Regions from separate parts of the Homo sapiens genome. Here all the other regions are linked to region 2. Evidence: fine-mapped expression QTL. A gene starts in region 2. Each other region holds a variant in brackets. All regions are shown on one strand. Distances are from middle to middle.

Region 1 (10,903 bases), 52 kb after region 2:
TATATAAATTAAATGACATATATAAATTACATATGCACACATGTATGTATTTATGTGTATATATATTTTTAATTAAACTTAATATATGTAGAAATGTCAGAGCAGAGGTCAAAACTAGTACAGAATGATTAAATTTATAGGAAGGCAATTTTTGACTTTTAATAAAGTATATTGTTCTAACAGCTGCTTTTATTTCTTTGATTTTTTTAATGTTTCCCTCTATTGTCCCACTCCTGGTTTAAGTCTCCATTGATTTTGCATTTGGACTAGTATAATAGCCTGCTTACTGATATCCATGCTTTAAGTTTCCCAACCTTAATGTTCATCCTTTATTCTGGTGTCACACAGAACTTCCTAAAATATAAAATGAGCACATCCTTTTCCCTTTGCCAAACTTCAGTTATTATCTTTCACCTAGAGGATAACATCAAAACTCTAAGACATACTGCAGGCCTTCACCATCCTTAAGAAATATATTTCAGGTGTTATTTTTCATCCTTCCAATCACTCCACACTTCTTACATGTAAGTTCTAGAAATTTGACTTATTTAGATTATCATGCACACTCACACATCTAAACATGTGCTATTTCTCTTATGCTTATTTGGACTACACTTTCTCCTTTATTTTTCAATTACCCAGCAAAAATTGTTTGAAATGTCGCTCAAATATTCTTTCTTTTATGTGGTCTTTTCTAACTTTTCAAAGAGATAGTCTCTCTCTACCTTCTGGAGACTTTATTCCATTGTGACACGTAACATACTATTGTCTAGTTATTTGCTTGTTGGTTCATCTCTCTAAGGAGATAGAGTGCTTCTGGCAACCAACACACCCAGTATTCATTTTGCTAATTGCAGCATTAATACAGTGTATTAGTCCATTCTCATGCTGCTATTAAAGACATACCTGAGACTGGGTAATTTATGAAGGAAAGAGGTTTAATTGATTCACAGTTCTTCATGGCTGGAGAGGCCTCACAATCATGGCTGAAGGTAAATGAGGATAAAAGTTACATCTTACACGGTGTCAGGCAAGAGAGTGTGTGCAGGGGAACTCCCCTTTATAAAACTATCAGATCTCATGAGACTTATTCACTACCCCGAGAATGACATGGGAAAGACCTGCCCCCATGATTCCATAATCTCCACCTGGTGCCGCCCTTGACACTTGGGGATTATTACAATTCAAGGTGAGATTTGGGTGAGGACACAGCCAAACCATATCAGAGAGTATCTGGAACATAGTTGATGCCAAATTGATCTTATTTTTTTAAGTGTAGCAAATGGAGGTACTTACGCAGGAAGTAGATGTTAGCTTCTCAGGGATGCTAAGAGGAATTGTCTATATTGATATGAAGATGGACTTGGAGTCTTCCAAGAACACTAGCAAAACATTAAGATTTTGTGGTTGCAGAGTATTTTATAAAAAAAGGTCATACACGCACAAACACACACTCAAAAATAACAATAGTAGCAAAAGGGTCTCTTTATAGAAAATCATTATAATAAAAATTTTTCTTGAAGTAATTTGTTCCAGAGACACAGCATGTTGGAAATTTCATATACTCTTTGTGCTTAATTGCAAATGGAAATCATTGAGAAAGAGCAAATAAGCATGATATTATATGAAATATAGATATTCATTGGATATTCTTGACTACCTAGTGTAGTAAAACTGAAAGTTTCAAAAATTTGAACAATTTGTTTACCGATGAATGGCACTGCATTTTTGACTCTATTAACGTTCATTGTTAAATAGAAAAAATAACTAGTGTTTAGTGCTTAAGAAAAAAAGGGACTTCTGTAAAAATCTTACAGAGTGAAAAGTGTTTATATCATGCCTTCTGAAACTAGATGTAAAAAAAAGAACTCTCAGAAATGTGTATCAGTCTGAAATAAAGGGGAAAGATACCACATTATTTGTTGGTTTTGATTGAGATCAGGTGAAAAATATATTTTTAAAGATAAATACTAAGATATAAGCACAACATAAAGATAACTGCATAAAATAAGTTTATATATTTAAGACATAAAATTCAAATTTGATTATATTATAGAATAGTATATTAATATGACTAAGTGGTTGTTAAACTGTGGTTCTCTGCCAGTCTTCTGTTTTATCCCTATACTTAGAAAAAATAATACGAATTACTTGAATTAAAAGCAACAATAACAAATCAATGTATTTCAACTTTTCTTGTGATCTGGAGAAATATTAACCCTGTGCTACATGGTTGAGCATGCTGCTCCAGCAGTCTAAAGTTGTTATTTCCATTGTACAAAATACATTTTTTTCTCTATCTAAAGAAGAACACATAAACCTTTTTCAGGAGAAGAGATGCACAGATGGAGGTGGACAGCAGCATCTTAACTCTTAAATTAGTTCTTTGCAGCTTAGTTCCCAGATGTTCGTTTCTTCTGCCCCCTGCTTTCTTGAAGAGAGTTTGCCATTGTCTGTCAATGAGTCATATAGTGTCTTCTCAAATTTGGAGAAAACACAAAGCTACAGTTGGATATGGTGTTAGTCACTGACAGACAATGGAAAGCTCCAAGATGATACACTCAGAGGTAACTTGCATTGTGAAGAAAATTGATCACTTATCTTTTGTCCTGACATCTTCTAAATACTCAGGGTTTTACTATGTTGTCAAAAATTCAGCCACCGAAAACAGGTATTCCACTCAAAATGAAAAATATTTTTTAAATACAAGTGTTCTTTTTCTTCCTGGAATTTTATTCACCTCCCACACTAGCCTTCATTTTTTACTGTATAGATGGAATGTCTTTTTCTATCCTCAAGGTGCATTACATTCATCTGACAAGACATAGAGATGAACAGCTTTTTACTGATTCTGTAGGTTCACAAACGGTGAAATAGGTCCCTCTGACACCATTGGGTCATCTGTACTATATTTCCAAGCAGCCTTATCACAAGATGGCATCATGAGAGCTGCACTGTCACCTTATGTCCACCAGAAAAAAACCATGACAGTCTCCTTTGGAGGCATGCAGTATATTAAAATGCAGATAATTTGAAAATTTCATTTTCCAACAATGAAACATTTAAAAACAGATACTATATGTATGGCTCATGCTATATCAATGTATACAAGGGGAACAACTAAATAATGTAATGTTATGATAGAGTTTATCATAAAGCAAAAATGTTCAAACATACAATTCATTTAGCCTAAAGAAATGACTGTACTTTACACTGAATATATTTAGATTTTTTAAAATGCACACAAAATTGCTGAAGTTCTAGCCTGTTTAAAAAAATTGGGGGTAATGGGACTACCACAAGAAAATATAATAGCTAATTTTTAGATATTTTAAAAGTCAGTCATAAAATAAAGGTTAAAATGCTTAGTGTCACTTAGAGGGAAAAGCTAAAACTATTGCGTGTCATTCACAGGAAGACAAACTTCAACACAATATAAATATATATTTTTTCTTATGAAAGAGCATGATGCCACACAGAGTAAGATCTTCCTGACATTGGCTAAAGAATTAGTTGCCCAACTATCTTAAATGCTTTGAGAGATTACTGAAATATAAACTCCTTAAGGGCAGAGACATTTGTATTTTGTTTTGCTTACTGCTGTCTTACTCTCTGTCCCTAGAACAATATCTGCCTGATGGTGGCACTTAATGTGTCTCATAATGAATCAAAAGAATTGAAGACTTTTAAGGTTTTAACATAAAATCTGTCATTTTGTCCTGAGAAATCACCTTTATATTCAGTGTCTTTGCTTATAACCATAGACTATACAAGAAAGCTAAAATAATTTTGATAGTAATTTAAAACCAAAAGATTTTTAAGGTAGCCAATATAAATTCATGAGAAACTTTGTTTAAATAGTGTCCAAAGTTGCCCTTAATTTTCTTTCATTTTATTTTTGTTCATATATTAATAGCTAAACATGAATTTTAAGTGAAATTCAGGGTAGAGGCACTAATCGTGGATGATCACTAATTCTGCATCTTGATTTTGATGTACCATATGCAAACTGAATATATATCTAGAAAATTTTTCACAAAATTTTTTTTCTATCAGATTGGCACTGTAGAAATAGTATTAGCTGTCTATTGCTGTGTGTCAAATTGATGCATAATTCAGCAAGAAGACAAAAACTCTACAATATCTCACACAATTTTGGAGAGTCTGGAATCCAGGAGCAGCTTTAATGGGTAATTCTAGCACACAAGGTTGCAGTCAAGCTGTTAATCAGGACTACAGTCATCTCAAGGCTTAACTGGGGCTAGAGAATTTGTTTTTAAGCTCACTCATGTTGTTGTTGGCAGGCCTCAGTTTCTGAGTTCTGTGCTGCCTGTTGGCCAGAGGTTGCAGTTCCTCACTACACGGGCTTCTCACAATGTAAGAGATGGAGTGAGCCCAAGATGGTTGCAATTTTATAACCTAATCCCTGAACATCATTACATATAGCGTGTTATTAGTCACACAAATTATCCCTCGTACAGTATGGGAGTCTGAATACCAGGATGTAGAGGCCATTGAGGATCATCTTGGAGACTGATCATTGCAGAAATAATTTGATCTATAATTTGTTAGTTACTTCTAAACACAATGCTTAATTACACATACAAATTAAAGACAACAATTTGGAAACCATGATGGGGAAAAGAAGGCCAAGAATTTTCTCATTTAGCTGTCTAAATAGATCAAATCCTGGAGCTCAGGTTTATCTGATTTGGTTAAAATTCATTTTAGTCAAAAGTTATTTGCTTTTTTAATAAATAGAGAGGTATAAAAGAGATAGTCATTTTATTTCATGTTGTGATGTTACATTCTTTGAAAGAAATAAAGATTGAAATGATTACTACAACAGTCAAGGGTGTCAAAACAACATCTTTCAAGACCTGTCTTGCATCCTCATCGAAAGGTCTGAGTAGTTGAAATAACTGGAGGACTAATTCTAGAGCTTTTTCTCCTGTAAGGAATACAGGTAGTATTAAAATATCACCTTCATGGTTATTAATATAGTCAAGCTGACAAGAGTGTTATTTTAGCATGGGTCAGAGGCAAAGTTTGCTTCAGTTTCTATTCACA[T/C]GCAACAATTCTTTGGCAATTTTTCTAGAAACGCATATTATCCTCAAATATAATATCCTTGGAAATAACAGCCACAGAACAAAATGCTGGATTACAAAACATTTTGAGCTCTGGTGGGAACAAAATTTGCAAGGAAAGTACAAAGTGTTATTAACAGCAGATTCATGATTCATTCCAATTCCCTCCGGGAATCCTTTCCTCTACCCCAAGAGAAGAAATTTCCAATGAAGAAAAGGCAGAGGACCCAGCTGTTACATCTAGACTATGTCCCGGGGATTAAATCTCTTCTGGGCTCCAAGGAGCACAGGGATCCTCTCTCTGCCAGGATTCTTAGTTTTCAACAACAAAAAATTGTCTCTGAAATATTTAAGTGGAAAAAGGCATTTGCTAAACATAAAAAAAAAAAAAAACTGGGCAGCTCAGAAAATTCTTAGGAGGTCTGGCGTATTGGGCTTGAAGATAGGCAGCCAACCATACCAACTACATAAAGAAGAGAGAAATAAGGAAACATGGCTTCCAAAATTAATAATAATTTTTTTCAACGTTTGGCATATAGTCATATGTCATAGCTAAAGACCATGTTCTAATACATGTAAACAGAGAAATTATCTGTACATTGATTCTTCAACATGCACTCAACAGATACACATTAAACTATGGGCCAGGTATTAGAAATAGAGTTGTTAGAGAAATTCAAAGTTCTTACCCACATGGAGTTTATATTCTAATGACTTTAATCAGTTAACATCTTACTTACACTGCTTTTTTCAACTAAAATTTCAACTACATTCACCTCATTAAGTTTACTGTGCCCCTACTATACGTTATATTCCAGCCTCTATGGGGTTGCTGAAAATTGTGGAAGCCAGATCCTTATCTGGACTTCATCAATATAATCCCATAATATCAGACAGTATAAGAATAACAGGATCCTATGTAAGTATTAAAAAATTTGACAATAAAATGATACGCAAAACGTTAATTTCAGGATTTGCTAAAAGTCATTTTATGGTATAAAAAGCAGCTAATCCAAATCTTATTTTTGGCCTTTACATGGAAAAAGTTTCTGTAATTGGAAAAGTCAGTCTTTGTGGATATATTACACATAGCCAATAGTTCAATAAGTCTCACTTTTCTATAAACTAATGAAATGTTCTATATGAAGGATAGTACAATCTGTATAATTTTAGTAGATCCTTTGTAGATTATATAATCAGTTTCACACATGTTAGAGGGAGGCATGATTCTTTTCTTTAATCCTTTATTTACTTGAAATTGAATTAAAGTCGGTTGGAATCAGCTGATGAAAGCTCTTTTGGAAAGTTGGAAGCTGAGGGACAGAATGTTATGAGGGCTCTTAGGTTGGGAGGGAAATTCATTACATTTGACTCATGATTTTCTTATAGTAAACTAAAACAGGATGTTATTTCCCACAATGTATCAACTATTTTTGAAGGATAATTGTTTAGCAGCTCACCAAATTCTGGGACATATGGATGGCTTAGAAAGTTGAGGGAGAGATAAGTTACTTTAACGCTGAAAAATGCGAGATGTCACAATTTTTTAAAATGTATCAATCTAACCTAGGATAATTAAAAAGCCATTTTGTAAAGCAAGAAATTTATCCATCTAACAGCTATATCATGGGAGAAGAAAATTTAGAAACACTCCAAAATTGAGTGATACGCATAAACAATTTTCCATATAATCCCACCACAACATCTTCTCACCCTCTCTTATCTCTGCCTTCCTTCTTGTTTCTGGGAGAAAAAAAGTTGGTGATCTTAGCAAAATTCAGCCTCTTGTGCATCATACATAATTCCCTTTCATCTACTTAAGGGTATATTTCTAGTATTTTTTTCTAATTGATTCTTGTGTTATCATATGACATGCCTTAATCTCTCCGATAATAATAGTATCACACACTTTCTTGATTTTTTGTTTGTTTGTTTTTATTTTTTTGAGACAGAGTCTCACTCTATTGCCCATGCTGGAGTGCAATGGCGGGATCTTGGCTCACTGCAACCTCTGCCTCCCAGGTTCGTCATTCAGCCTCTCAAGTAGCTGGGATTATAGGTACGCACTACCATGCCTGGCTAAGTTTTGTATTTTTAGTAGAGACGGGGGGTTCACAACGTCGGTCAGGCTGGTCTTGAACTGCTGACCTCAGGTGATCCACCTGACTTGGCCTCCCAAAGTGCTGGGATTACAGGTGTGAGCCACCGTGCCTGGCCTACACACACTTTCTTGAAGCCCCACTTTCCCTTCAGTTCCAAGCACATTTCTCTGTTTCTTTTTATTGCACAATTCTTCAAAAAGTTGTTTCAAAGTCCTCTCCTTGGGTTTACTCTTCAGCTTACACTAATATTCCTTTTTGCCCACATGGTTCCGTTAAAACTACTCCTGTCAAGTCCACCAATAGTATCTATAATACTAAATCCAATAGGCAATCGTCAGTCCTTATGTTACTTGACTTCACAACATTAGATGAAGTTTATTTCTTTGAAATGCCATATACTCTGCTGATCCCCTTCCTTCCTTTATTGCTCAGTTATTTCCCTAAAGTTTCAATGGTAGCCAGACCTTGGACATCTTTTCTTTCTCATTTTGCTCACTTCTTAGGGGCTTTCATACAATCTTTTGGCTTTAAAGCCATCTATTTGTTGATGACTCCCCAAATTCTATCTCCAGTCTAAACATCTTCCCTGAATTTCAGAGTTCTAGCTATTTGTCTACTTCACAGTCTTGGATGTCTTTTGTTTGTTCTGTGTCTATTAAAGACATAAGAGACTTAACAAGTTCAAAAGCCACTCCAAGCCTTTTCTTCTAAGCTTTCTCCCATGTTTTTTCCTGACCTCAGGTATGGCAAGTCCATCCTTCTTAGGCCAAAACTTTGGGGCTATCATTCAGTTCTTCTTGCCACATACATTTGATGCAGTAGCAAACCGTGTTCCCTCTACCTTCCAAATATATTCAGGATCTGACTATTTCCCACCACATCCATTGCTACCACCCTTCCCCACGCCACTACCTCTCCCACTTGAGTTGTTACTAGAGTCCAAAAGTTGACTTGATCCTTATGCCCTTGTCACCCCCCACTTACAATTTATTTTCCACACATCAGATAGAGCTATCCTTTTAAAACATAAATAGGATCATGCTACTTCTTTGATAAAAACATTGCCTCTTACTCAGATAGAAGACTAGGTCATTGTAATAGCCAGCAAGTTCCCAATTTCAGTGCTTCTTGACATAAGCAAATTAAAATCACCTGGGCAGCTTTTGAAAGACACCAATATCAGGGTCTCTTACTCAGAGATTTTAATTTAGCAATTCTTGTATGGGATCTGGACAATGATATTTTTAAAATGTTTTGTTAGGTAACTGTATTAGTCTGTTTTCATGGTGCTGATAAAGACATATCTGAGACTGGGAAGAAAAAGAGTTTTAATTTGACTTACAGTTCCACATGGCTGGGGAGGCCTCAGAATCATGGCAGGAGGAAAAAGTACTTCTCACACGGCGGCAGCAAGAGAAAATGAGAAAGAAGCAAAAGTGGAAATCCTTGATAAGCCCATCAGATCTCGTGAGACTTATTCGCTATCACGAGACTAGCACGGGAAAGACCAGCACCCAGGATACAATTACCTCCCCCTGGGTCCCTCCCACAACATGTGGGAATTCTGGGAGATATAATTCAAGTTGAGTTTTAGGTAGGGACACAGCCAAACCATATCAGTAACTATCAAGTGCAGCTTGGATTGAGAACAATTGTATCTCACTTTCTGGGCCCACTATCTCTTTGAACTAAATCTTTTCCTCCTAGATCATTCTGCTTTAGTACCATTTGGCTTCTCTGATATCTGAAAAACACATCAAACATTTGTGTACCTCAGAGTCTTTTCATCTGTTTAGGTTTTCCCCATAATTTCATTACATTTTGACCTTGTGTGTTTGGTGTATTTATTTTCTGTAACAATTCAATAGAATATAAACTCCAGGAGGGCTGGAATTGTTTTTCTGTGTTGGTCACTGCTGTATCCTAACCCATAGGACAGTTTCTTGTCCATAATACACTCCCAAAAATATTTGTTAAATATATGGTCTATTTTTAAATCCTTATCCCAATACAAAATGTGAAATACATGACATTTTTTTAAAGAAATTTGGGCTTGGGGAAGTGGCGATCAAAGTGTTCTCTCTTTTTGATGTATTGATTTGAGCCACTAGTTGAATACCTATATGAAAATGTCCATCAGGAAGACGAAAATATGACTGTATTTATGAGAGAAGTCAGGGGTGTAGGGACAATTTTGTTACCTGTCCAATTAGAGTTGATGGCTGAAGCCACAGAAAGTGGTTTAGAGTCCCACTGAAGAGCATTTAGAGGGAAAGGGTTATTGATACAGAAAATACACATGTAGAAAATATACCAGCATTCATAAAAGGTGAAAGAAATCAGTGAAAGAGGCTGAGGAGCTGTGGAGGGTCTCTCTACTCCCCTGGCCAAAATGCCCCAGTCTCTTTCATTGGGCCCTCCCGTTTCTCATGATCACTGAGTGCAGATGCCAGGAATGAGCTGCACATGTAGTATTCCTTGCTCTTTCCCTGATGCAGTATCAGATAAGTGAAGTTATTAGAGGCCTATACAGTTGTCTCAACTTCCCTGTGTCAATAAGGGACAAATAAATATTCTCCTTGGTATTACAGAGATGAAGTCTGGGAATGCATCTTGTGAATTTAGCCTGTACTTTGAGTTCTTGTGAGGTAGTAATGCCACTTTGTATTCAAAATGGAGTTTAGCTGATAAGCATCTGCAGAGACTTCACAGCACCCTCTGCAGCAGGGAAATGTGGAGTGGAAGGTGCTAAAACTGTAATTAGAACAAGGCATCTGTCTCCCAGCTCCTACAGAGCAGCTACTAATCAATGTGATCACTTGCTTTGAGTGGGGAAGTGCTCACCCATGGCTCTGCTGGACTTTTTCCCAGCCACTAGCAGACTGGATATTGGTAAAGATTACCATTGGCTCTGGAGAGATAGAAGAAAGTATTAGTGCTTGGGAAAAGCAGCAGTTTTAAAAGGTGTTTGGTAGGGCATGTGTTGATTTCGATTTCCTGTCAATCGCATATTTCCAGAATAATCTGGAGGCCAATTATTACTAAAAGTATAGCTCATGCTGAAGCATTTGCAGGCTGGTTATACAGAACTTTTTTGATTTCCTAGTCCATATGTTTACTTGCCCTTAGGACATTTTGCTCTTATTTGGCAGTTTTCCTGCCAAATAAAAAAAATCCACTTAATGCAATCATATCAATTTGATATCTATTACCAATTCTGATTTGAGCAGCATTTTTCAATGTATGATCTGTAGAATACTTCTTTAAAAATCGCCTTTAAAAATGTTTCTTTAATTCAATATTCTGGATAAATGCTACATATTATATCCCCCCTTTTAAAAATTCACAGTACACACTGGGGTATTAAAGGCTTCTAGCTCTCTTGCAAAAAAGAAACTGGTTTTAACTGTGTTGAACCTAGCATTTCCCAAACTTATTTCTTTAGAGAGTTTTTCTTTTTCTTTTTTTAAGACATAAAACAGAATTAATGTTCCAGAGAAAAGACTTTAGTAAAAGCTAGATTAAATATTTCTTATCATTGACGTTTAAATTATGCCTAAAATGAGGTCCAGAGATTTCCTGAGAATTTCTTCATCCCATTCTCTATTACTACTGATAATTGCATGTTATGTAATCATTCAGGATAAGTCAGCCAGGATTCCAGCTCATTCTTCTGCTCAAAAGAATAAAAATAAAAGCCAGTCCTTTTATCAT
Region 2 (10,903 bases):
TGATAAGGCAAATTGAAAACATTATAGGTATAAAAATATATGCCCATTTCTCTTTGAAATTTATCTCTCAGCTAGAAAGACTATAGATTGCAGGCTGGGTGTGGTGGCTCACACCTGTAATCCTAGCACTTTGGGAGACCGAGGCGGGTGGATCTCCTGAGGGCAGGAGTTTGAGACCAGCCTGGGTAACGTGGTGAAACCGTGTGTCTACTAAAATTCAAAAAAATTAGCTGAGAATGATGGAGTGCACCTGTATTCCCAGCTACTCGGGAGGCTGAGGCACAAGAATTGCTGGGACCCAGGAGGTGGAGGTTGCAGTGAGCCAAGAGGGCATCACCACTATCCAGCCTGGGTGGCAGAGCAAGACCCTTGTCTCCAAAAATTCCAAAAAAAAAAAAAGGAATGCACGCTTGTACCTGAAAAGGCAGCAGAGAAAGAAACAGAAGTTTAGGATAATATATAGGAAAATAGATTTTCAATACCTCTCCCTTTTTATCAGATACTAGGGCTAAAATAACAAACACCAAAAACTCAAATTCATGTATTGGGAAAAGATGGACTCAAGAGACTCTTAGCTTAAAATATCCTATTTATTATTCTTCATGCAACTTATACTTTTCTTTGATTTTCAACTTAATTCAGCCACTCTATATTCTTGGTATGTGCAAAGTCTACATTTTCCACTAGGGAGATGTTTATTTTTTCTTGCCAGATTGACAACTATTGCAAAGCACAAACTAATAGCAGTAGTAGTACACTAGTACATTTAAAATGCCACAAGGATTACAAAAAAACAATTTACATTTTAGTTTCTTACACAGACTTGCATTCGTTTCCACTCCCCCATCTATTCCACTTAACGATTATTTAAATTAATGACAAACATGACTGGCCAATGTATGAAAAACACAAATATTTTTGTTGATAAAAGTTTTACCAAAATCTTCTGTGGCACCTATAAAATGAAAACAATTCCTTTAATAAGAAAATTATTTATTTTCATTTCGTAGCATTCATCCCTTTAGAGTTCTGTCAACCCCTTTTTTTTTTCTCCTGGTGAAATCTTAGAACCATGGCTTTACATTTCAGGAATGTTTTTCCTGGTTCATTTGATACTTTTTATGAGTTCATTGCTTTTGTCTACCCATGGTTATGAAAATAAGACAAATTTATGGAAATCACAAAGGGAAAGAAGGAAAAAATTCACAAAATTCTCTGGGACTTTAATTAATGATTTATCCAACTGTGCTTTTTTCCTGTTTAGTTAACATTTGGGTAAGTATGAATTGGGGAGTTCTCATACTCTATCTCTCTCATGTAGTTCATTGGAAGTACATAATGGCACTGTTTAATGTGGCTGCAGACCTTAGAAGTTGACGTTACATGCATATTAAATATGCAAGAATATGTTTCTGACACTATGGTATGGTCTAAAAAACTGTACAGTCAGAGCACTACTTACCCACCAGGAGGTGGTGCACTTTACAAATATCAGTTGTCTTATTATGTTTCTTAGAAAGAATAAAATAATGTCTAAGAAGGTTTTAGCATTTCTAAAAGCCACTTAAACTTTATTTAAATGTGAATTCTCTTCTCTTTCTTAGTGGGAGGTTGAATTCCATCTAAAATATTTAAATTTCATCAATAATTCTAAATATTACTTATTAACCAGATATCTAGGTCTAAATTTGAGTTTATTGTTTTTATTTGTTCTATATCATTTTTATTCTTACAATCTTAGAAAAGTTTTCATTATCTCACATACAGTTTTGTTTATGTGCATATTTCCTGGTTGAGTCATATTGTCAGATTTTAAAAGTATTTTTAAAAGTAACTTAAAATACTCAAGGGCAAATATAGGCTATTAGTACAACATCCATGCTACTTGAAGTTCTGCATGATTATATGAACACTTTGAGAGGAAAAGTTTTATAACTTACATGGTGGAAAGCATTTGTTAGCTAATGACTATACTAATGACACTAAAAGTTCTATCTTTAATAGATACTAATAACCCAGTTTTGATCATGCCAGTAGTGCAACTTCTTTCTCTCTTTGTTAGTTAAAAGAAATTAACACAAGAAAAAGTACATTTCCTGATGTTCATAAAATGACTTGTGGATCTAAATGCTCTTCTGGATTCCTAGGGGATTCAGTTCTAATTGAGTGTGGTATCTATGAAAAAGCTGATATACACTAATTAATAAGTTCCATGATTTCCAAATTAGAACAAAGTGTTGAGGTTACACTAATAAGGAGTTACCTTAAAAACCTAGTCAGGTTGCAAGGATAATAAAGGCCAAGACCATTAAAACAGATAGCAATAAGATAAAAAGATGATAGCCCCAATCAAAAAGAACAAAAGAATAAGTCCACACTTCTTACCCCCTATTTTGACTATTATCCCCAGTCAATTCACTTTTAAAGTGATGCTAGAAGGGTCAGAGAAACATAATTTTCCTTTGACATCCCAAAAGCACAACCTGAAGCTTTCTACCTCCAGCAGCATTTATAACTTTGGCATATACATTTCTCCAAAAAGCGTATGTCTTCTTGACATCAGTTGGCTCTCTTGCTAGTACTTTTGCTTGGTGCCAGCTTCCCTCTTAGCTTGCATAGCTATAAATTTCCAAGTGATAGGCTGTAAAGGAAGATTCCTGCTTTGCAGTCTCATTAATGAATTAGAAGATGCAAATATAAGACTTCTTACCTTGAACTGACAGACGCAAGTCACAGTGTCTCCAATTCTTAAACATTCCCCATCAAATTTACAGGTGTTGGTGTCACAGAGGAAGAGATCATTTTCTCTGTCATCATAACCTCAAATTCAAAGAGAACACTCCAGTCATTAAAACATCTTACAGATTTTTAACAAAAAAAAGCACTACTTTGAAGCTTTAAAATACTTGTCCTAAATTTTAAATCCAACAACTATAGCTGTACTGCAAGGTCACTGTCTACTGATAACCTCAAAATCTAGTTAAGTGATCAATATTCGTTTCCATTTTCCACAATTCTTTTCTAGTCAATTCTCCTTTAGTATCCTTTTCTGATAGTGCTATTTTTTAAAGCTTGCGTTAATACTGACAGTGGTGAATGAAAGCTTAACATTTGCTTCCTGTTTTTTTTTTATTTTTATTTTTTGCTCATTAGGTGGACAATATTTATGACCACAAAACTCCACATTTTGGAAAAGAGCTAGTGATGATCTCTGAATACCCTTTTACCATTTCCCCATCTTTAATTGTTCTTTTGCTTCAACGACTGAAACAACCCCTTATTTGAAATGTATCCAGACAAAGAGGAAACAAAGCCTCAATAATAAAGATAAACAGGCACAGTGTTTTCTGTGATGGTCTGTTTGGCTCAAATGAAGATTGATCACCTCTAAGTTAACAGGGGTGGAAGCGGGGTGCCAAGTTCTTGACAACCTATCTGCAAAACCAGTTTATTCTCTTTAGTTTATGCAGTCCCCTTTAAAATATCTGGTAAATATGTAATTTCTTGATTGCAAATGTCAACTTCACATTTAAGTTAGTTATTTCCTAAAACAATGCAAGGGCTAGGAATGAAGCAAACCAGTCTGTGTTGGACTACAAAGCCATCAACATTTCCAAAAATTGTTTTTGCAGGCTCATAATTATTACCATAATAAAGCATCTAAAAAGTGATTAGGCAATAGCAAAGTGAAACTTATTCTTTCAAAAACAACACACATGTACGCATGAATCAAGAAGTTATAGAAACATGTTGAGTTTTATTAAAATGCCAAATTTAGAAACTGCCAAAAAAGAGAACAATCTATTGACCCAAATCTAATAGGGTTGCATATCTCAACTTGTCTTTGTAAAGGATAAATTAGAATGATGCATAATAATTTTCCTTTTGGCATTTACATCAGTAATAACTAGGAACTATACAGGCTTTCACCCTGAGTTACAGTTGGTCATTCCCTCCTCTCTAAAGTTACATACACTTCAGCTTATATACATCTTTGAAAGACACTTTATTCAGAGCCAGATTTAACTACAGCAAAATTATATTCACAGAAGATGAAAAATTACATACACACTTGCTAAAACTAGAACAGACCACACCTAGGGGACAATACCCAGGCATGTTAACGGAGTTTAAAATGCCAAGGAAATTACACCACAATTCTGCCCAGTATACTACAGGCTGTCAAACCGAAATGCTATGCCAGCTAGGAGTGCAGCAACTCCCATCCTCTGGCCCTATTTAATTAGGAAGCTTCAGCAGAGCGAAGCCTGCCAAGCGTTCGCCGTCAGAATCTGAAGGAACCCGAGCGAGCAAGAAGAGTGCCTGACCCACTCCACAGAAGCCTGTCCAGAAATGGAGGAGTCAGCGCCCACTGAAGTCGGTTCCGCCCTCGGCTCGCCTACATGGAGCCTGACCAGCCTCAGTCATGCCCACTCCGGCCTGGGAGACCCGCAAAGTGTTCTTTTTCTCAACTCCCCTGTACTACCTTGAAGCTTAGGGAAGCAAAGAGAGGGGCATATCTGGACTGCAAAACCAATGTCTTTTGCCGCCTAGGAGAGAAGGGAATGAGAGAGAGAGAGAGATAGATAGATAGAGAGAGAGAGAGAGAGAGAGAGAGAGAGAGAGAGAGAGAGAGAGAAATTCTATTGAAACCCAGCTCCTCTAGAATCTGTGTGACCTGGTCTTCAACGGGAGACCAGTGCGACCTCATGGCACCTTTGCCAGGAATCAGCGATTCCCCTGCAGTCACCATTTGATTTATTGCTTTCTCGCTCATTCTTTCTCATAAAGTTATTTCTTCCTCATCCTAGTAAGACTTTTTTCTTTAATGATGACAAAGCTTCTGTTTCAGTGTTTCCCCTAGGATTGGTGCTCTTTCAAAACAGTGAACCCAGAAAACCATCCCGTTTAATATTTCTCAAAATCCTCGCAGCTCCAATGTAAGCGCAAGCATGCAAAGGTTTCCTGCTACACCTGCACTTTCTGCCCATCCCAGAACCACCCCTCACCCCCGGGCCTGCAACAGTTCCCCTTGTTTCTCTGGATAGAGGTGGGTGGTATTAGGGGTCTAGGGCAGTAGGAGGTGAGGGGCTGAGGAGGCGCGCTAGGGTAGGCTGGTCTGTGCTGGATACGCGTGTTCTTCTGCGGAGTTAAAGGGTCGGGGACGGGGGTTCTGGACTTACCAGAGCAATTCCAGCCGGTGGGCGTTTGGCAGTCACTTAAGGAGGTAGGGAAAGCAGCGAGCTTCACCGGGCGGGCTACGATGAGTAGCATGACGGGCAGCAGCAGCAGCCAGCAAAAGCCCTCGCAAAGTGTCCAGCTGCTGCACTGCCGCGGGGACTCCCACAGCACCATGACTAGTTCGTGCAACTCTGCAGCAGCAAACGGCTTCCGAGGAACACAGGATCGCGGGGGCCGGGCAGCGGGCTACTGAGCATCCCGCGGACGGCGGCAGCAGAGGCGGCGGCGGTGGCAGTGGCACCCGGCGGGGAAGCAGCAGCCAAACCCGCGCATGATCTCGAGAGTTTCAGCAACATCCAGGGACTGGGCTCAGCCCCGGAGCGAGAGGGTCGTCCGCTGAGAAGCTGCGCCGGAGACGCGGGAAGCTGCTGCCATAAGGAGGGAGCTCTGGGAAGCCGGAGGACAGGAGGAGACGGGAGTCCAGGGGCAGACGAGTGGAGCCCGAGGAGGCAGGGTGGAGGGAGAGTCAAGGCGCCCCGCAGCCCGGCAGCCGCCTCTCGAGCTCTGCCGCCCGCATCCCTCTGGCGTTTGGGAAGCAGCAGGTCCTCAGCCCGCCCGGGGTCACGTGGGAAGAGGCAGTCGGGCTCTGATTGGTGGAGCAGGATGCAGGTCCCGGGAGGGAGGGGTCGACGAGGAGGTGCAAGGATGCAAGGAGGAGGCGGCCGCGGAAGCCACAGATGGGCTCGCTCGCCAGGCGCTGGCCCGAGTGGGGCTAGGCGGGGATGGCTCAAATGAGAAGCTCGGGCTTCAGGGTGGGCTACCCGCACACTCATATACCATTCGCCTCACTCTCCGCTCCAGGACGCCCCCTACCGAAGGCGGGGTCCGGACTAGCGCCCCTCTTCCGCGCGTGACCCCGGGCCGCGAGTGCGGGCCGCGGCTGGGTGGCGTCTCTCCGAGCTGGAGATGGTGGGGGCGGAGGTGTCAGAGGAGCAGCAGCAGCAGGGCAGAGAGGGGCGAGTCGGCGCGGGAGAGGGCGTCCTGCTGGCGACCGGCGCTCCAGCGTGCGGGAGCGCGCCGCCTAGGCTGTAGGGGGATGCAGGCTGGGAATGTCGCGGCGGAGAGGCCAGGGACGTTTCTCTAGGGATTTACAGGAAAGAGGGTGAGAGGCGATGGTGTTAGAACCGCTCTTGCCGACCTGGAAGCAACAGCAGCATCTCCCACAAGAGCGTGCAACCCCAAGGCTGCTCGCCGAGGCAGCTCAGCCATCCCGGCAGGCGCTCTCCTTCCTTCTCTCTTCTCCCCTCTCTCCTCCCAGGCCCCCCGCAGCTCCGACCCAGCCCAAGCGTTCGCAGGTTTGAATCCCTCTCCTCATCACCCGCTCCTCTCCAGCCCGTAGCCTATTAGTGTGTCCACCTGGGAGGTGCGGTCAGATGTGTTTGGAAGGTCAGATTGGTCGGGACAAGTGGTCTGAGAGAAAGAGAAAGGCTCCTCTGCATACGCCGCGGGTGGGTTGCCGGGAGCATCGGCCGGGCAGCGGCGTCCGGGAAGGGGAGAGCGGGCTCCATTTGTTGGCCCAGGCAGTGACCCTGCGTTCCTTACTCGGGTCTTTGCCGGATGGCCGGTGACCTGGGGCGACGAGAGAAGGTCTAACTCGGCAGGAGTCTCTGGCTCTGCGCGTTTCTTTCATTCTCTCCAGCGGGAAGGGCAAACGGCATAGCGGGACCCGCCTTCCGTCTGCTGCATTCTTCAGGCAGTTAGACACACTCTTTAGCCTAATGGAATTTTAGTCGCCAGTAACGGGACCAAGAGCTTTCGGGGACAAGGGTGGAGAGGAACATCTTTCTTCCATGACCGGGGTCACTATTGCAGTCTCAGTGTTTTGGATGCCCCATAGGGAAGAGCTTTCTTTTTGGTGTGTGATTATTCAGTGATTCCTGTTTTTGTTTTTGTTTATCTTCTCTCCGCTCTCCTTCTCTATTCCTCTCTGTTATCCCTCCTCCTTCTTCTCCCCCCGCTTTCAAAAGCCTCCGGATCCTCCCTTTTTCTATTTAAATTCTCCTTTTGTGCCCCTCTTTCTGTGTCCCCTGAATTTAGGAGAGCATTTGATAACATTTAACAGGCAATTAGTGTCCATTCCCAATCACTTAAAAGAGGCATTCATATACTTTGAAAACGGGACTATCTATCCTTTGCAGACACCAGCAGAAAAACAAATTGTACCCGAGTAATCCTTTTAAGTACTTTAACCTCCAACCTCCTCCCACTTCCTTGCTTTTTAACTTCTCCTTTGAGAGATGTGATCGTGCAGCACCTCAGTGCCTCAACGAAATCTTTTTTTTTTTCCTGTGTGAAATCCATCCCTTTATCTTACATCTCCGCCTCCGTCCGAGACTGTCCCTCTCCCCTCCCACCTCCAAAGATTTCTGAATCTCAGTGTCTCTCACTCCTGGCAATTAAGCAGCAGATCCCAGCATTCTAGTCGGTGGCATCTCGCTCCTCACCGACGAAGACTCCATTAAAACAGATCAATTAGACCAGACGTTGGAGGCATCAGAAAATCGGCTTCTAGACAGAGCAGCTAAATTCTTTAAGGAAACAGAATACCCATTAGATAGAGCTGCCAACTAATATTGCAAAACAAGGAATTAGAAATTTCTTTCGCTACAGGCTTTCAGCAGAGAAGGCAACATAAATATAGATCAAGATTTAACAACTCTACAGCAGAGAATGAGAACATGTCATTTTCCATAGCAAGGCTGGTGTGGTAACTAATCAGGCTTATGAAAATAAGTCATGCTTGAAACTAAAGGCAAAGTCCTTAAAAGTGTTTATGCAGTAATTATGATAATGAAACAGGACCTGCTAGGATTTCAGAGTTTGGCTATGTAAGTAGAATTTTAGAGAACCTCTTAGCAGAGGAAAACTGTTTTTGAATTTTCTGCTAAGTAAATTTTTGGCATACTTTCTAATAATATATGCTCTTCCTAAGACGTTTTGCCAAAAGTAAGTTAAAACTCCAAAGGAGTTAATTACTGGTTGTAACTGGTTAACAAATGCGGTTGCTTCCACAGAGGTCCTTTAAATTATTAAACAGTTTGAAGCAAAGCCTTTTCAATGGGAATGCTGCAATTTTGTTGCACTTACTCTGTACTTAGTGTTATAGTGCCACCAAGAAACAAATTCTGAAACTGGCAAGCACCACCAAGTGGCAGAAGAACATCACTCATTGAGCAGAGAATTGTATTACTGAATATGTAAATAAAAATATATACATTATTTAGACTTGTCACTAGGTACCAAAGAAGTAGACAAGACTGCATTAGCAATTGGATTAGTGCTTTAACTTTTCCCCAGCAAGGCAAAATCAGTTTACTTATTAGAATTAAATTTAAGTCTATGAACTGTACTTTGCATTGCGTATCATATGATTGCTAGTAATATGACACAATCATACCATGTATTTGCAAAATTCTTATTTTAAAATACTATACCATATTTACTTTCAATCTTCTTGAGCTAGAACACTTTATTTGTGGCATATACACTCTAGAATTGATGCAGAGGAGCAGAGTCCAGTTGTTAGATTTTTCAGTAGAAATAGTGCAGATATATTTTCTCCAGAAAACTTAAGAACATTTTTTTTTCTCATGGAAAGAACATCATTATAAAGTGTGAGATTACTCACAGCTTAAGTAGGGGGCTTGGGAGTTATTCTCCAACAAGAATAGTTTAAGATAAATAAATGAACCTGGGAAAATAAGATACACTGCCAATCAGAACTCTTATCTCCTTCATGATTTCATACTTTCTGATTGCTTCAATAAAGGTAAGATGTATCCTTTGCTTCTTAGGTGTCAGGCATTGTGCCATGTAGGATAGAACATGTTATTTTTATTTAATCTTTAAAACACCCCTATGAGACAAAGAATATTATCTCATTTTATATAAAAGGAATATGGCTTTGAAAGCATCAGGCAACTTGCCCCAAGAAACAAATCTCGTCAGTGACACTGCTGGGACTCTGTGAAATTCTGCCTGACTTCAGAGCACAAGACATAAGTCACTAATTTCTGCTGTATTGCTGCCTGTTAGCTTCTGAGAGGGGAAACTAACTGGGAACGTATCAGTTCTGTCCATGATACTTCATTTGCCCTTTCTGTGGAGCCGCAGTAAGGCCCAAACTTTAATTCTCAAACTTCGGCAATAAGATCCAGTGATTTCTGAACCTGGTTGATCATATGAATTCCTTGAGAAACTTTGAAACAATAGACAAATTCCAAGTCCCACTATCAGGGATTCAGAAAATCTGGAGTTGGGCCTTGGGATCCACATTTCAATATTCATCCTTGTTGGAGAAGTAAGGTACCACCTATACCTATATGACAAATGAAAGGATACCTCGATTTTTGCTCAGTTTTCACAGAGAGGTTTCTGAGACAGGTTAAAAGCTTTTACTCAGTGTAAAGATGAGCTGTTGTACATGTCTGTCTCTCTGTTTTTATGCATATGTTCACCAAATATGTATTAAGCTTCTAATATGTCTGACACAGTAACTTTGTGACTGTAGACAATTTCCTCATTTGTAAAATGTGAGTAATAACAATACCTGCCTCCTGGGCTTGTTCTAAAGATTAAAATAAAAATGTATGGTTTAATGGTAGTGGATTTGGGGGGATCCCCTATATAAATAAGTGAATGGAGGTATGAATAAATAAATACATAAAGATGTGTGTACTTATATTTATACACATAATTAAAAATAGTTAAAGATGTACAAATTAAAGTTAAATGTATGTGATATTGAAGTATATGTTGATTATTGATAATGAAGTACAGTATAATTTCTAACCCCACACCTTAACATCTCATACTTAATAACTCATATCTTAATTTCTAGCCTACTTAAGATACATAGATATAGATAGAATGTTCTAAATCATTATTGCCTTAGTTTTAATGTATAATATTCATATGAAAAAGTATCTATCAGTGTGTAGTAAATGTATTAGAACATTATTTATAGGTCAAATGATATTGACAATGTTTCAGAGTCGTCATCTTCATTTCTGGATAATTTTTCAAACTGAGAGTAATTAAATTTGCTATTTTTTCACCCTTTTCTACAATGGCAAATAACATATAAACAATGAGCTGTGATTTAAAGAAATAATTTTATAATGTAAAAGCTTCCCTATGCCTTATTGATTCCCATGCCCTTAATTAATTTTGGTAGTTTAAGTTTGTGATTTCAGTGCTGAGGAAAGTTTATTTCATCTTAGAGCAGTGGGGCTCAGTCATGATTTCACATCACAATCACCTGGATAATTAAAGAATACTGATGCAGAGTTCGTATTCAAAGACTTGGAATCCCTAGAAGTGACACAGAAGCATTGGTATATATATATTTTTAAAGTTTTCCTGGAGAAACACATAGCCATGATTGAGAACCACTGTCCTGGGGAAAGTGACTATTTTCTCATTACTCAAATAGCCAAGTTTCAGGAGGTAAAATACTTACATTTTTCTCCATTAAAACTTGTAAAACACATATCTCACCAAAGACTATTAAAACATCTAGCCAAAGCAATATGAACTAGTTAATGTTTGCCACTAGCTTGCCAGTAGTTAAAAAAAAAAAAAGGAAGAACTGTTATTGGAAGAGAGCTAGATTTAATAAGCAGTAGTCATCTCTATACAATCTGGTGTCTTTTTATTTATA
Region 3 (10,903 bases), 40 kb after region 2:
TTATCTAGGTCAGCACAGTCCAATAGAAATTCAAGTGATGATAAAATGTCCTATATCTGTGCTATCCAATTTGGTAGCCACTAGCCCCATGTGACAATTGAATGCTTAAAATGTGGCTAGTAGACTAAGTAACTAGATTTTTAATTTTAATTATTTTATACTTAAAAGGCCACATGTGGCTACTGGCTATCATATTGGAGAGTTCGTCTGTAGGTATTTGTTTATAATTTCAGAAACTAATCTTTTTTACAACTGCCTACTTGACAAATGTGTCAGTTCTGAAGATTTAAATCAAGTGGGACCAATAATTTGACTCTCATTTTATATTTTAATTTTTCCTTCTAGAAACTTACATGAGGATTAATTAAATAAAGGGGAGAAATTGATTTAGAATGTCAGAGTAAGTACTTGGGGGACAGATATCACTGGGTTGTTTCAATAGTCTAAGATTTTCTGTTTCCTCTCTGAATGATCAGATTGCACCCAGTACTAATGTGAGTAGGACAAAGTTTGGGCAAATGGAGCTTAACTTTCTTAAATATAAAAATTATTACTTATTTTTTTCCCCTTCAACTCTTCCCAGATAGCTTGATGATTTAGCTTACTGGGAATAGTCACTCCCATCTTGGAAGAGAGCACAGCACAATGAGCAAATCCCACTCACTTCAGGGGCTTGAGGAATGCTTTTAAACTGTATATAAAACTGGTTTAATGAGTATTTGGGATATTGTTGTATTTTCTCCCAGATTTTAGTCTTTCTAGGAGCAAACAAACTGTCCTAACCTTTTCTAAAAGTGAAAAATCAACGTGGAGTAAGCATATTCTCTAAAATATCTTTACACAAAAGAACAAAGAAAAATACATTGGGCTGGCACAAGTCATTTTGGTTGTATTCCTTGTATGTTATACACATTTTAAAAGGAGAGAGTGAAAGCCAGTCAAAGAAATATGTCCCATCCTAATAAAAATATAATCTGTTATAATGCCAAAATAACAGGGATAGTAACATAACAGCAGTGAAGAAAACACGTGATAGAAAATTAGAGACATTAGGCTTAACCCAATTAAGATGGCATATATTTAATGACCTCCGGAGAAAGTTAATTTTTTAAACCACACTCTCTCGCTACCTGGAAATATCTCTTTATGTCTGACTTAAATATCTCACAGTGCAATTTAAATTCATTTCCTTTTTGTGATGCCCAGTGGAATAAAAAGTATGCACTACTTTCCTTTGAGGGGTAAGCCATAATTTGTTTAAAGATCAATAAATATTCAGCTTCTCAGATTTCTTCAGGCTAATGACTCTATTTAATGTTTCCTTAGAGGTCTCCATTATTGTTGTCATTCTACCCTGAACTCTGTCTAAATTCTGTGTGTTCTTTTTAAGCTGATGAGCCTCACAGTCATTTTCACAGACTGCATCTCTATACGCTAAGTGAATGGCCCAGAGCACTCAACAACTAGGCTTGGCTGCCACAAATGCCCTGCCATTATACACAATCACCACCGTGCCTGTTGTTCTGCATTCTCTTAATGTACTACATTGGAGTGGAGTCAAGTATGAACAGAAATGCCAAGCATTTGACTCCACTTCGATGATATTTGTAGATATGTAGGTAAAAGCAGTCTTTTGAGTATTTACTTTTCCCACTCAATATTTTTTTCCTCTTTATTTTTTGCCCTCTTAAAAGGTACGTTGCTGAGATCTGGCCGTATGTGGCTTGGTTGCTGTGTTTTAAACACTCCCTCTGTGTTGTTCCCTTGAAAGCCTTGGCAAATAGGTTAGAATACCCGATTTGCTGCATTTTCCATGCTTATTGCTGTTTTCTTTTCCAAGCTTGAGAAAATAACTCAACATGGTGTGTGGATGAATGCCTTTCATTCCTGTATGCTGCCTCCAACTTTTATAGTTCTATTTAGTTTTCTTCAAATTATTATTTCAACAGTTATTCTACATTTCTCTACTGTTTCAAGAGCAAATATCTTTTTTATTTTCTTCTGGTTGTACAAAAAGTTAGTAAAATCATAGCCTGGAGCTTTTAAATATAGAATGGGCATTAACTGCACTCAAGTAACTATTTCATCTAGGCTAGGAAAGATATTGAATTTGGAGAGCTGGGGACAAAAACAGTAAGGAAGCTTTGTGAGTGAGCACAAGATAGATCTCCCTAAATGTCACTTTGTATTTTTGTGTCTTTCTTCCTTCTTATATGAATATGGTGTGATCAGTCACAGATTCTTTTAGTTTGTAATGCTCTACGGAAAAAAATGTAGCTTGTCAGAGAGGCAAGTTCTTGGAGAGGCAAGGGACTCTCACTGGGGGGCCCTTGACCCTTCTCCGGTCAAGGCTTCCTGTGGGAAGCCTTCCCTGACTGTCCTTCTTCAGTCCTTCTCTGAACTGGAATTGTGCTGGAATTGCCTATTCAAAAAAAATTTAAAAAACCAAACAAAACCTCTATGGAATAATTGAGGTTATTGCTAAGGGGTTTTCTCTATATTTGCAAATGAAGTTCTTAATTGTGACATGTCTCATAGCTTACAGTTGATGACCATTGGCTCATACTTAAGAATAATGCTGAAAAAATTAGTTGATCTGTGCAATATATTATGTATTGTCAAGGCATGTTTTCCACAATAACAGTTCAAGGTATTTTAATTTCAGATTCTCAAGTAATTTTCACTTCCTCAAGTAATTTTCACTTCATGCTCTGGAATGCTGATAATTTTCACCCATTTTAGTACAATTGTTTTATTATTCTGGTTAGGAGATCTATTATATTTGCAGTTAAAGTTAGGATTACTAGTTTTCTTAGCATCAATATAATGTAAATGTGAAAATTTTTACATGTTTGAAAACGTCATCATTTCCCCCCCAAAGGAATGTTGGATTGCAATTGAAAACGCTAAATCCAAAAATTTCCTTCTGAAACAAATCAGCACTTCACCATAAAAATTGAGTGTCCTTATCATTTAGTATCCTTATTAATAATTATTCCTTTCTGCAATGGCAATCATTAAAGGCTAATATTAGACTATGATGGATAACAATGTATGCTATGGTGACAAGAATTAGCCTGTATAATAAATAATGTTTTACATGGTGTTCATACAGACAAAACTTCCACGACTAGTTTTTTACTGGTATAAATATATAGAATAAATGTAAATAAGTAAGTTCAACCAGACACTAAAATTGCTTCTTAAGGGCATTATTGCATTTCTAAGAGTAGGGAGGTTCTAAGTTTAGTTAAATTGATGTTACTCATAAAGAAAAAATGAAGCAATTTGTAAAAAATGCTGAGCAGAACATTAGGAAACATTTATGAAAATATTTATTACATAATTATCAAGTCAGTAGTATCTTAAGTCAACATGGTGGAGGGAGATGAGGTTTATATTAGAATATAAGTTGTGCCATCTAATAACTGTGAGACTATGAAAAAATACTCTGTAGAACTTATTTCCTTCTAAAGTAAAGGCTCATGCCACCTCATACGTTTAAGTGAAATAAGGACTATAGAAATCCTGACTGATAAACTATTCAGTCCATATAGATTTTTTTTTTTTTAGAGAACCTACCATGTGTGGACTTACAGCATATATAACATAGCCTTGGTTCTTGCCTTGACAAAATAAATTACACAGATAATTACAATGTATTGAAATCGAGATGAGTGCTATTCAGGAAAAGCAAACAGGGACAGAACGGCATCTATTTCTAGGATCTAACTTATTGAAGGGTAAGTGAAGCCACACCCAATGGAGTGCCATTGAAATGGGAACCTAAAAGCAAGAAGAGGAGGTATTGCCTGATAAAGTGAGAGAAAAGTCTTTCTGTCAGATGCAAGAGCTGATGACTCTGGAATCTAAAGCAGCTTGGCATGGCCCAGAAATGAAAAAAGTTCAGTAAGGCTATGAGAGTCTCTTAAATTTCTTTTTCAATATCTTACTTGTTTATGAACTCCCTAATATTGTTAAGGATCTTATTCTTCATTTTTTTGTCCTAATTTTTAATATGTAAGTTTTGTTTATGGCACAGACCAAATAATTACTGAACTGAAGTCTGGCTATTTTAGGTGTCTAGACTTAACCTAAGTATGCCTTCCTAAGCATGAAACTTAGCCATAACTGTATGTTCACTGACTACCAGACTGGGTCTATCAGGAATGATAGGATTCTCATGGGCCTATTCACATTTTAAAATTTGTTATTTCTTATAGTTACTAGTAGTAAAAAACGTGCATCTGTACTTTTGCTCCATTCTTTGGCAAATAAATTGTGATATCTCTAGTTGGAAATATTTTTTAAAACATGAGAACTATTTATTAAACCTAATTGCTTCCTCTTCTCTAATCCTCTAAATTTAAATTTATAAAATTCTTTATATAGGAGACAATTTACTTTCATGTTTTGTTTCAGGAAAATAAATGAAGCTTCCTGAGCTATTTTCCAGAGGCCTTATCACTAAACAATGTACTCATTATTTTTAGTTTAAGCATGAACAGATGTGGGTTTTTATTTATTTATTTATTTAAACTAAGACCTACCATTATGAGAAGTAATTTAACAGCCATGCTGCTTTAGGACAAAGGATTCAATAAATGTTTATTGCAGTTGTTATATATTGAACGTGTGTCCTAAACTGTCACTTCTAAATTAACTGTTACTACTACTATTGACCTTTAACACAGTTTCTTAAGTATATAATTTAGAAGGAAAATTATCAACTATAATATAGCCATCAAAAACAGTTGTTTTAGTTGCTATATTTCCTTGGTATATTACAAGTCCTAATTACATATTCCATATGTTTTGTGAGGGCACACAATGTTAAAATAACTTTTTTGATTTTTTAGTTTAATAGCTTTAATGCCAAACAGCAAATATATTCAGAGTGAAATTTATCAACTATCATTTAAATGAACAAGAAAGAGTGTGACAAGTAGATGTACTAAAATTGTTTCTTTTAAATCAGGTAACTGCAGTACAAGTAGAAGTAGACTCTAATTGAAATGCATTTTCATGTATTCGGTTTATTCCAGACACAAGCTTTATGCAATTACCTTGTTAGCCCAGAATAGGAAAACATGAGAACGCAATACTTCTACTGACATTTGACAATTTAGATGTTATTGACATATATTGATTGATTGATTGCTTAAACTATGCAGATATTAAGATTTTTGGGGAGTAAAACTGTAAATCTGCCTGTGGGTTTTTGTTATATTATGATTTTTTTTGGTAGAATGTCATGCTTTCTCTTCCTTATAACACTTTCTTGTCTCATTATATCCTGTTATTTCATTTTCCTTGGCTCTCTCTTTTCGCCAATCCAGCTCCCAGTTTTTTTAGTAATTTAAAATCTTTCTCAGCTTAACAAATTTTCCTCTTCCTTCATTTTACTCTTTGTCTTTCTATTGTCCACATTCACTCTGTTTAACCTGACAGTCAATCCCGTAAAAAAGTTGATTTCTGTGATCTGAAATGCTTATCCTGAAACATCGGACAAATAAAAGACAATGCTGAATGTAACATAACATGATCTTTCCTCAGTTGTAACCACCAACATAAGTATATTTTCTTCTTTATTGCACCCCAGTCTTAAACTTACTTGATATTTTCATTCTGCTCCACTTCTCTAAATATTTTAACATTTATACTTATATTTTCCCATTGTTATTAATAATACTTAATAAGTCAAAAATTTTCTTATGTTTGTTCTTCTTTCCAAATATGAATACATTCTATATGACATTTTCAAGAGCCCTAGTTCTTGACATGCTTAATGGGTTAAAACTTAAAAGAGATTCATACCACAGCTATTATTTAAGAAACATTATAAAGCTGCTTTCTTCTACTGGTGGATTCAGTTCTTGAGTTTTTTATTTTTATTTTTAAATTTTTTTTATTTATTTTTTTTTGAGACGGAGTGTTGTTCTGTTGCCAGGATGGAGTGCAGTGGCGTGATCTCGGCTCACTGCAATGCCCGCCTGCCTGGTTCAAGTGATTCTCCTACCTCAGCCTCCTGAGCAGCTGGGACTACAGGCGCCCGACCCACGCCCGGCTAATTTTTTTGTATTTTGGTAGAGACGGGGTTTCACCATGTTGGCCACCATGGTCTCAATTTCCTGACCTGGTGATCCGCCTGCCTCGGCCTCCCAAAG[C/T]GCTGGGATTACAGGCATGAGCCACCGCGCCAGGCCCAGTGCTTGAAATGTTTAACGTTAATGAGTACTATAGCACTATCAACATGAAAAAGTTAGCAACTTGTCTGTCAGCCTTTTCAAAAGTATTTCCAGCTTAAAACATAATCTGAAGTATCTGGCATATAAATCGCTTACATTCTTTCGGTACAGTTTATTATTCTTAAATTGGACAGGATTAGGTAAGATGTTAAAACAGAGAACAATTGATTGTTCTCCAGGATAGTGGAGGATTGGGAATAGCTGAGAGAGAATATCAAAGGGTGAAGTTGTCACTTGTTGGACGTTAAGTTGAACGCTGAAGAGGCTACTGATTTTCTAATTTTGTTTGGGCATGACAATGGAAGAAAGAAAACTTTATTGCTCTCAACTTTCCCATGTACCTCCCATGATTTCACTTGGAGAATATCTTGCCTCTTCAACTCTGAATCCATGCCTGCATTTCCTTGTTTTTCTCATTATCCTACAATGTTGATTTGGTGTTTTCTAACAGGCGATATGGATATTTGAGAAAACATCTTGGCGGAAATGATTATAAACTTACCTCATGTCCAGCAGAGAAGACTGTTTCTACACACGACCACATCTATACTTAAAGTTTTTTGTTGGAATTAACTGCCGAATTCCAAAAATAGTTTTGGTAGTACTCACTTCTTTTTTCTGGGAAATATTGAGTCATATGGTGACTGATTGATTTTTCTTAATTTTTTTTACATATAGAAAAATTCACTCTTAAGATGGAGTGTTCACCTTGGTTTCAACTTTCCTAAAGTAAAATTTCATAAAGTAAGACTTGATTTTTTTTGCGTTGATGCATCAAGAACATATCTATCAAAATTAATTTGATATAATTTTACTCTCCCTTTTTCCCTATACCTGAAACCTCAATGTTCATTTTGTATCCTGGAACAACAACCAACAATAATTTGTGAAAGCAAAACTTGACTGAGTTCATTGGGATCATTTTCTGTGGCAATAATCTAACTTTTCTATCATAGTAACAGTAAAAATAAAACATTTTCAAAGTGTTAAATAAATTATTAATGATTAAAATGAACAAACAATATTATACACTTCTAATCATAACTGCATAAAAAAATTCTGACAGAATATACAAGAAGCTATTGTGAGTGTTTGTTGCCTGAGCAGGGGACTTGGAGCCTAGTCTGGGAGGAAAATAAATTGCCTTGTATACTCTTCATTGTTTTAATTTTTATTTTTTATTATTATTATTATTATACTTCAAGTTTTAGGGTACATGTGCATAATGTGCAAGTTTGTTACATATGTATACATGTGCCATGTTGGTGTGCTGCACCCATTAACTCGTCATTTAGCATTAGGTATATCTCCCAGTGCTATCCCTCCCCCATCCCCCCACCCCACAACAGTCCCCAGTGTGTGATGTTCCCCTTCCTGTGTCCATGTGTTCTCATTGTTCAGTTCCTACCTATGAGTGAGAACATGCAGTATTTGGTTTTTTGTCCTTGTGATAGTTTGCTGAGAATGATGGTTTCCAGCTTCATCCATGTCCCTACAAAGGACATGAACTCATCGTTTTTTATGGCTGCATAGTATTCCATGGTGTATATGTGCCACATTTTCTTAATCCAGTCTATCATTGTTGGACATTTGGGTTGGTTCCAAGTCTTTGCTATTGTGAATAGTGCCGCAATAAACATATGTGTGCATGTGTCTTTACAGCAGCATGATTTACAATCCTTTGGGTATATCCAGTAATGGGATGGCTGGGTCAAATGGTACTTCTAGTTCTAGATCCCTGAGGAATCGCCACACTGACTTCCACGATGGTTGAACTAGTTTACAGTCCCACCAACAGTGTAAAAGTGTTCCTGTTTCTCCACATCCTCTCCAGCACCTGTTGTTTCCTGACTTTTTAATGATTGCCATTCTAACTGGTGTGAGATGGTATCTCATTGTGGTTTTGATTTGCATTTCTCTGATGGCCAGTGATGATGAGCATTTTTTCATGTGTTTTTTGGCTGCATAAATGTCTTCTTTTGAGAAGTGTCTGTTCATATCCTTCACCCACTTTTTGATGGGGTTGTTTGTTTTTTTCTTGTAAATTTGTTTGAGTTCACTGTAGATTCTGGATATTAGCCCTCTGTCAGATGAGTAGGTTGCAAAAATTTTCTCCCACTCTTAGGTTGCCTGTTCACTCTGATGGTGGTTTCTTTTGCTGTGCAGAAGCTCTTTAGTTTAATTAGATCCCATTTGCCAATTGTAGCTTCTGTTGCCATTGCTTTTGATGTTTTAGACATGAAGTCCTTGCCCATGCCTATGTCCTGAATGGTATTGCCTAGGTTTTCTTCTAGGGTTTTTATGGTTTTAGGTCTAACATGTAAGTCTTTAATCCATCTTGAATTAATTTTTATATAAGGTGTAAGGAAGGGACCCAGTTTTGGCTTTCTACGTATGGCTAGCCAGTTTTCCCAGCACCATTTATTAAATAGGGAATCCTTTCCCCATTGTTTGTTTTTCTCAGGTTTGTCAAAGATCTGATAGTTGTAGATATGCGGCATTATTTCTGAGGGCTCTGTTCTGTTCCATTGGTCTATATATCTGTTTTGGTAGCAGTACCATGCTGTTTTGGTTACTGTAGCCTTGTAGTATAGTTTGAAGTCAGGTAGCGTGATGCCTCCAGCTTTGTTCTTTTGTCTTAGGATTGACTTGGCGATGCGGGCTCTTTTTTGGTTCCATATGAACTTTAAAGTAATTTTTTCCAATTCTGTGAAGAAAGTCATTGGTAGCTTGATGGGGATGGCATTGAATCTATAAATTACCTTGGGCAGTATGGCCATTTTCACGATATTGATTCTTCCTACCCATGAGCGTGGAGTGTTCTTCCATTTGTTTGTATCCTCTTTTATTTCATTGAGCAGTGGTTTGTAGTTCTCCTTGAAGAGGTCCTTCACGTCCCTTGTAAGTTGGATTCCTAGGTATTTTATTCTCTTTGAAGCAATTGTGAATGGGAGTTCACTCATGATTTGGCTCTCTGTTTGTCTGTTATTCGTGTATAAGAATGCTTGCGATTTTTGCACATTGATTTTGTATCCTGAGACTTTGCTGAAGTTGCCTATCAGCTTAAGGAGATTTTGGGCTGAGACGATGGGGTTTTCTAGATATACAATCATGTCATCTGCAAACAGGGACAGTTTGACTTCCCCTTTTCCTAATTGAATGCCCTTTATTTCCTTCTCCTACCTGATTGCCCTGGTCAGAACTTCCAACACTATGTTGAATAGGAGTGATGAGAGAGGGCATCCCTGTCTTGTGCCAGTTTTCAATGGTTTGGATATTGCAATAAAGGAAACAAATGATTTTTTATTCAAATAATGAATGATGAGGATTACTGAATAGCATATGACATGCAAACTATAGATTTGTGTCTTGACCAATAACAAAACTACCAGGAGAGTCATCAAACATATTCGTTTGCTGAATAACCTGCTTGTTTTCTAGAATGTGTACACTACACTACACATACACACACACACAGGCACACACATGTAGAGCTGCATTATAGTTCCAATATTTGCTAAAATATTGGTAGTCATTTTGTAAATTAATATGATATCATATATATATATATATATATAAAATACTTAAAAGTCTAAATCATGGACCTATACCATCATTATTTAGAAAAAACACGCTAACTTTTTTGATGATTGTATAAATGTATTTTTAATATTGATTATACTTCTGACTAGCTATTACTTTTGCTCATGAGAGACTAGACTCAAAAACAGTTGTCCAGTCCCATGCAGAGATAGTACGTGCCAGAAACATTGTAAGATACCACAAAGACTAATGGAGACTAAAAGCCTCACTCCTCTGTTGAAGGGATCATCTTGTCCCCTACCTCCTTAAAGATGGGTGAGCTGTGGCCCCTCTGGACAAACAGAGCCAGAGAACACTGTAAGCCACAGCATGACAACTTCTCTGCTTTCCTAGACCAAACCTACCTAGTTTTTTTTGAAAGAAATAGAAGATAGAGTCACTTTTCAAAGCTATTATGACATTAATGCCCTTTGGAGGTGAAATTCCTAGCAGATAATCTAAACAAAATGATCATATTTTAAACTACAAAGAATTAAAACATAGTCTATGTTGGGAAGAAAATGGGACTCACCAGTGGCACTCTCATAATGTTAATTTGATTGCATGTTGGCCTGCGTACAGCCAGATGTCCTCCTCTGCTATTGAGCACATTGAGAAATTAAGATTCCATGCATTTCTCTTATTGCTCCCTTGAAATGAAAACTTCTGTGCCTTTCTCACAGCCATAATCAAAGGCAAAAACTATACATCTATGTTAGTGCAGTCATCTTTAACAACAAAGATTGAGAGATGACAGTATTACTAATTTAATGATTGGTCTTGTATAAGGATAGCAATGATATTTTATTCCCTAAAATGTCAGCTGCCCATTGCAAGTGAACCTCTGAAAGTAACAGTTAAATTTTTTGGTAGGCTAACAAGTGCAGATACATACACAGCAAAGGAACAGTGCTCTTGGTTAATTATCTAGTCAGTAGTTACTTCAATATTCCCTACTAAGAAAGATATGTTTTTTAAAAAGTCAGAAAGAGCTTGAGTGGTCTTGGCTCCAGGAAAGAGGGTGTTAAAATGTAGAAATTTTGATGTATGTCTAGCAAAATTTTAGTTAAAATTAA

Alleles and levels. Alleles are on the strand shown, and positions count from the first base shown. SD is a standard deviation of normalised expression in the study named.
For the expression in subcutaneous fat of the gene that starts at base 5,764 in region 2, allele C in region 1 goes with a lower level than allele T (moderate effect, 0.61 SD a copy in GTEx).
As copies of C replace T in region 3, the expression in esophagus mucosa of the gene that starts at base 5,764 in region 2 goes up (small effect, 0.32 SD a copy in GTEx).

Evidence for each region. PIP is the estimated chance that this variant, and not a neighbour inherited with it, causes the effect. A credible set is the group of variants that fine-mapping cannot tell apart.
Region 1: its variant is the best candidate, but not a certain one, in a credible set for the expression of TMEFF2 in subcutaneous fat (GTEx, PIP 0.65).
Region 3: its variant is the best candidate, but not a certain one, in a credible set for the expression of TMEFF2 in esophagus mucosa (GTEx, PIP 0.84).

What each region holds. Positions count from the first base shown.
Region 1 is chr2:192,241,219-192,252,121 of GRCh38, forward strand. No RefSeq gene overlaps it. Among named protein-coding and RNA genes, the nearest start is that of TMEFF2, 52 kb to the left of the region's middle. The variant T/C (reference allele first, on the strand shown) is at 5,071.
Region 2 is chr2:192,189,170-192,200,072 of GRCh38, forward strand. It overlaps TMEFF2 (transmembrane protein with EGF like and two follistatin like domains 2), which reads right to left and starts at 5,764. Exons shown (of 10, transcript NM_016192.4): 1 at 5,184-5,764; 2 at 2,711-2,820. The coding sequence starts at 5,355. RefSeq lists an enhancer at 5,710-6,285.
Region 3 is chr2:192,229,562-192,240,464 of GRCh38, forward strand. No RefSeq gene overlaps it. Among named protein-coding and RNA genes, the nearest start is that of TMEFF2, 40 kb to the left of the region's middle. The variant C/T (reference allele first, on the strand shown) is at 6,168.